Regions from separate parts of the Homo sapiens genome. Here region 1 is linked to region 2. Evidence: fine-mapped expression QTL. A gene starts in region 2. The other region holds a variant in brackets. All regions are shown on one strand. Distances are from middle to middle.

Region 1 (2,905 bases), 50 kb before region 2:
GGAAGGGCCTTCATTCAAGAAGAAAAGAATCAACATAGGATTTTGAAAAGTGAAATAAACATGCTATGGGAAAGAGAAAGTATAGGATCAAAGAGTATGTCTTAGGGGTAGGGTGGATAGATGTAGAGGATGTTGAGTGTCTGGGAGAGCTGATTGAACTTGACCCAGTAGACAGTGAGATTATAGTGGAGAAAGACATTCTGGAAAGAGCACTGAGTGGTTATAACTTTTGATATTTGTAGGATAGATTGTAACACTGGAGACAAAAGTTTGGGTTAGGTTACCCAGTTCTTAGTTGTGTGAATGGACAGTGTAATTTTATTAGTTCCGAAAGTAAATAAGAGTCCATATTAAGCTGTGGGACTAGAGAGATGACAAAATAGAGATTTTGAAGAAATGAAATGAAATTGGCAATGAACGGATAAAAAATTAGAGAATACGGACAAGTTTAAGACAAATCCTATATTGGACCCAGAGAAATGTGCCCATCAAAAGTGACAGAGAATTAGGAAGACTGAGAGGGAAGGTGACGAATTTAGTGCGGAGATATTGGATAAGAGGACAAACAGAGCATCTGAGTGGAAATTTAGTGAGAGCTCGAGAGAGGAATGTTGGGATGATCAGAATAAGGTGATATTTTAACCTGTGAGAAAAGATATATTTAGAAGATTAGAGTTAAATGTTTAAGACTGGAAAATCAGCCAGGTGTGGTGGCTCACGCCTGTAATCCCAGCATTTTGGGAGGCCGAGGCGAGCAGATCACAAGGTCAGGAGGAGATCGAGACCATTCTGGCCAACATGGTGAAACCCCGTCTCTACTAAAAGTACAAAAAAGAATTAGCTGGGTGTGGTGGCGCGTAGTCCCGGCTACTCAGGAGGCTGAGGCAGGAGAATCGCTTGAATCTGGGAGGCGGAGATTGCAGTGAGCCGAGATCGCACCACTGCACTCCAGCCTGGCGACAGAGCAAGACTGTCTCAAAAAACAACAACATAAAAAACAAAAACAAAAAAAACAAAAAAACAAGATTGGAGAATCAGAGAAAGAAGAGTAGATATAATGAAGGAATAATTTAGGAGTAGTAGGGGAACCAAAATAATATGAAGCTGGAGGGAAACTTGTCTAAAATTCAGTTCTTAAATTCCTAACCTTCCAGGGTTAATGTTTATTAAATACAAATGTTTACATGCCTGAAGAAATTACATTTGCAACTAAGATGTAAGTAGAGTCAGCTTACAGCCCAGTCCCTTCACAGAGTTCCAGAAACAGTACAGCATCCAAATCCTTATTGGAGTTTTTCCAAGGATGTCAACAAAGATCCAGTTTGTTACTCACAACAGCACTTCTTAAAATTCTCTTCATTCCTCTTGGACTCACAATATCTTGACCCCACAGCTTTCCTAAGGCTCTCTCAAACTTCTGACTCTCAACTCCTCTAAAACTCAACAAACCAGTGCCATCAAGGATCAATTATTTGTCCCTGTCCTCTTTTCTCA[CT/C]TTTTTTTTTTCTGTGCCTGCAAATAGCCCTCCATCCTCTTTCCAAATGTAAATGTGAATTAGAGCAAATAATTCCTAGTTTTTACACTTTTTCTAGTTTTTACACAATTTTTAGTGAGTACGATACCTCTACACAATTAACTCCCAGTAAACTTAATGGGAAGGTTCAAGTTCCTTTAGAAGGGTAGGAGGAGGAATAATTGCTAAATGACCAAAGTTAGGATTTTCTCTCTGGAGTGAAGGGAGGATTGTATTAATAAATACATACAATTTGCTGTCTTTTATGCCTGTCTTAGTAATAACAGTAAATGGTGGGTAAAAGAAAGTGTTGCTGTTCTTCTTTCCTTCCTTCCCACATGCATGTTTTCCTCCCTTCCCCTCTTTCCTCTCAGATTCAGTACATACCTTCACAAACTGTTAGTCTTTATTTGCTAGAATGAAAGAATGTTCTAATTAGGTAAGAAGAGGTGGATTCCAACAAAATAAGTGATCTTTCTGCCATGGAAGAGGGAGGTAAGGAGGACAGTTATGTAAATATTATTTCACCTTGAGTTAATATTTGGGTTCTTTCCTTTGAAAGAAACTGGTTTAAAGACCAGGCACTGGTTAGATGGAAAAATTGGCAGAAGCTAACACTATGGTTATGAGGAAGCTATGGGTGACCAATTTCTTTTTTTTTTTCTTTTTTTTTAAATTATACTTTAAGTTTTAGGGTACATGTGCACATATGTAACTGACTAATTTCTTTTGTAGAGTTGCAGTCATATCGTCTTGGGTTTGGGAGTGTAGTAAGAATGTCTGTGAATATGTCTGACTCTCCTTTCAAAAAACTGGCAAAGAAGAGAAGCAGTGGAGGGGAGGTTTTTGGATTAGCAGGAATTGAGCACGTTGGTAAAAGAAGAATCAATTTATAGAAGGGGAACTTGGTAGAACAAGGGAAGGCAGGGTAGTTTATTGAATAAATCCTAGAAGATGAGGACTCTCCTCTGAGTTGAAAGGTAAAGGTGCCTGAGAAGAAGTTTTGAGATCTTGGGGTCAGAGTGGAAGGAATTCATGGTTGATGGACTCTAATGCAGTTGACTCCCGAACAACATGGGTTTGAACTGTATGAGTCCACTGACACATCTATTTTTTTCAATAAAATTTGCACTAAGTGTGCCTGCCTTTCCTTCCAACTTCGTCACCTCTTCCACCTCTGCCACCTTTGCGACAGCAAGTCCAACTCCTTCTCTTACTCAAGGCTAGTTAACGTGAAGACGACGAGAATGAAGACCTTTACAAAGATCCACTTTCACTTAATAGTACATATATTTTCTTTTCTTTATGATTTTCTTTTCTCTAGAAAATAACGTTTTTCTCTAGCTTTATTATAAGAATATAGTATATAATGCAAATAACATAAAATAATGT
Region 2 (2,905 bases):
AATTTTAAACTGTTATTTGAACAGCAAAAAGACCAGGCAAACATCCGAGAGACAGACCTAACTGCAGATAAGTCTTGTAATCTTGTTCACTATAGTCAAAACAGAATGGATTGCTTATTCTGTTACCCTATTGGTATTGCTCACATTTTAAAATTTAGGTGCTGGGCTCAAGAATGATAATTTTATTATTAAGCTTCAAGAGTCACATTGTATTGTATGCATTGAATATCACGAAATCGAAAACACTGAAAAGCTAGCGTTTACATTCTTGGATCATACCCCCAAAGGCCAAGGATTCCCACTGGCCGCTTGCAGCAGGGCTGTCTCCTGTGAAGGCAAGAGACAAACGAGGAGCGTTATGACACTTTGCTCCCAGGACTTTGGCGCACAGTTCCCATGAGTCCAGGTCCGTCCAGTCAACATCCTGAAGCCAGGACTGGCAGGTCCTGACCCTCCCTTTTTGCACCCGTAAGGGGAAGGGCCCGGGAATCTGGACCTTGTCTAGAGTCCCGGCGCCAGTACCAGTTCGGAGGGCATCCTGGAGGTTGTTACTAACCCGAGCCTCTTCCAGGCTTCCCAGGCACCAGGGTTGCTAACAGCTCCACGGGGGCGAATAATTTTGTTTATTTTGTTAACTGTGGTTATCTCCAACACTCAGTTCAGACCTGAGCCGGGCAAAGTCTCACCTTGTCTCCTGGTCACTTCCCTGCTTGTTTGTTTCTTCCTAACTCCCAAGTGTCTTTCGCCCAGTTCATCCCCACCTCAGCAGCCCAAGGCTCGGCGGGGACGGTCGGGGTTCGAAGCCTGCAGCTAAACTTAGAGGGTTCAGGCTTTGCTGGGAGGCCTCCCTGTGCTCAGAAGAGCCGGGGGTAAGCTGGGCGGTCGCCTTGGGTGCAGACAGAGGCGCAGGGCCTCGGCCTCCAAGAAAATTCCCAAACCGAGAGGCTGAGCTTCGCGTCTGTAGTTACTGAGCAGGAGCTTCTGGGCGGAACTTCTAAGGGCCCCGCCCGCCCCGTCTGCCCTGACCCTCGCCCGGACTCGCCTCGCCCACGTCCCGTTTCGCTTCGCCCCAGCTCCGTCTCGCCCCGCCCCCGTCCCGCCCGGTTGCGGAGGCGCGGGGCGCCCCCGGGTGGCCGCGGGCAGTGCTGCTCCTGGCCGGTGGAGGCGGCGGCTGCGGCAGCGGAAGGGGAAGCGCTGAGGCGGTGGGGCCCACAGCCATGGCGGAGCCTGTGCAGGAGGAGCTCTCGGTCCTGGCCGCGATTTTCTGCAGGCCCCACGAGTGGGAGGTGCTGAGCCGCTCAGGTGACTACCCGCGCGCGGGAGGGACAGGGCGCCCTCAGGGGCCACCCGCGTTCGCTTTGCGTCTCCTCCCCACCACGGAGCCTGGGCACCCCGCCTGGGCCCACGTATGGGGACCGGGTTAGTTGAATGATGGAATGACACGCCCGGAGGCCGGAGTGGTGTCGCAGCGGGCGGGAGTGTGAGGCGACCCCAGAAACACTAAGAGAGCGGCGCGGCCCACTGGGGCCTCTGCCGCCGGTCCCGCTCCCGGAGCCGGGGGCCCCTGCGTGCGCACCCCCAGGCCCTCCCCCAGCCTCCCACCCCTCAGATCTCACCCTATAAAGAAGCCTGTGCTGACGCCCCCTCGTTGTTCTGTGTCCTTCCTAAGCACTATGCCCTAGGCCCCCCCGAGAGCACTCCCCGGTTCTAACTCTACACGGGTATTTGTAGGTCTTAAGTTGCAGGAGGGCAGGGTCTGTTTGGTAATGACTCCAGGCACCTGGTAGGTAGTAGGTAAATGTTTGTTGACTGAACTTTTTCATTTATCCAGTGCTCAACCTCAACTTTATCTGCATTCTATTTCCAAGTTGATTGCTTTTCTGATACTTTTTTTTTTTTAGGTGGAGTCTCTCTTGTTGCCCTGGCTGGAGTGCAGTGGATCCATCTGGACTCACTGCAGCCTCCGCCTCCCGAGTAGCTGGGATCACAGGCGCGTGCCACCATGCCTGGCTGAATTTTATTTATTTTATTTTATTTATTTTTTATTTTTTAAGACGGAGTCTTGCTTTGTCGCCTAGGCTGGAGTGCAGTGGCGCGATCTCGGGTCACTGCAACCTCCGCCTCCCGGGTTCACGCCATTCTCCTGCCTCAGCCTCCCGAGTAGCTGGGACTACAGGCGCCCACCACCACGCCCGGCTAATTTTTTGTATTTTTTTTTTTAGTAGAGACAGGGTTTCACCGTGTTAGCCAGGATGGTCTCGATCTCCGGACCTCGTGGTCCGCCCGCCTCGGCCTCCGAAAGTGCTGGGATTACAGGCGTGAGCCACTGCGCCCGGCCTTTTTTTTTTTTTTTTTTTTTTTTTGAGACAGAGTCTTGTTCTGTCCCCCAGGCTGGAGTGCAGTGGCGCGATCTCGGCTCACTGCAAGCTCCACCTCCTGGGTTCACACCATTCTCCTGCCTCAGCCTCCCGAGTAGCTGGCACTACAGGCGCCTGCCACCATGACTGGCTAATTTTTTGTATTTTTAGTAGAGACGGGGTTTCACCATGTTGGCCAGGCTGGTCTCAATCTCCTGACCTCGTGATCCGCGCGTCTCGGCCTCCCAAGGTGCTGGGATTACAGGCGTGAGCCACAGGTGCCTGGCCTTCTGATACTTTTTTTTAAACAAGCTCTTGAGGGCTTTATTAGTCATTTAGCCCACATTTATTGAATCCCTGCTGCCTACAGACTTTGTCAGGGTTTCAGAGACACCGCTACCCATGGCCTCTAGGAGCTTACAGTGTAGAGAGGTTCTTTTGACTATTTTTTGATGATAGGTGAAACTTACTGTCCCTGTATGTGGCTTCTATTGAATAAAAAAAAAAGAAAAAACACTGCCATGTATGAGAAAGTGACTCAGTTTTCA

Alleles and levels. Positions count from the first base shown, and alleles are read on the strand shown. Sizes are in standard deviations (SD) of each study's normalised expression.
In carriers of allele C in region 1, the expression in lymphoblastoid cells of the gene that starts at base 1,197 in region 2 tends to be lower than with CT alone (large effect, 0.94 SD a copy in GENCORD).

What was found. PIP is the estimated chance that this variant, and not a neighbour inherited with it, causes the effect.
Region 1: its variant is fine-mapped to the expression of RWDD3 in lymphoblastoid cells (GENCORD, PIP 0.95). The same link has a PIP of 0.9 or more in T cells and iPS cells.

Annotation. Positions count from the first base shown.
Region 1 is chr1:95,182,858-95,185,762 of GRCh38, forward strand. All of the region lies in intron 6 of TLCD4 (TLC domain containing 4), which reads left to right. All of the region lies in intron 6 of TLCD4-RWDD3 (TLCD4-RWDD3 readthrough), which reads left to right. The region is part of intron 3 of RWDD3-DT (RWDD3 divergent transcript); the gene reads right to left. Among named protein-coding and RNA genes, the nearest start is that of RWDD3-DT, 50 kb to the right of the region's middle. The variant CT/C (reference allele first, on the strand shown) is at 1,495.
Region 2 is chr1:95,233,014-95,235,918 of GRCh38, forward strand. RWDD3 (RWD domain containing 3) reads left to right here and starts at 1,197. Exons shown (of 4, transcript NM_015485.5): 1 at 1,197-1,302. The coding sequence starts at 1,218. All of the region lies in intron 7 of TLCD4-RWDD3 (TLCD4-RWDD3 readthrough), which reads left to right. It overlaps RWDD3-DT (RWDD3 divergent transcript), which reads right to left and starts at 969. Exons shown (of 4, transcript NR_125949.1): 1 at 687-969. RefSeq lists silencers at 938-1,267, 1,478-1,657.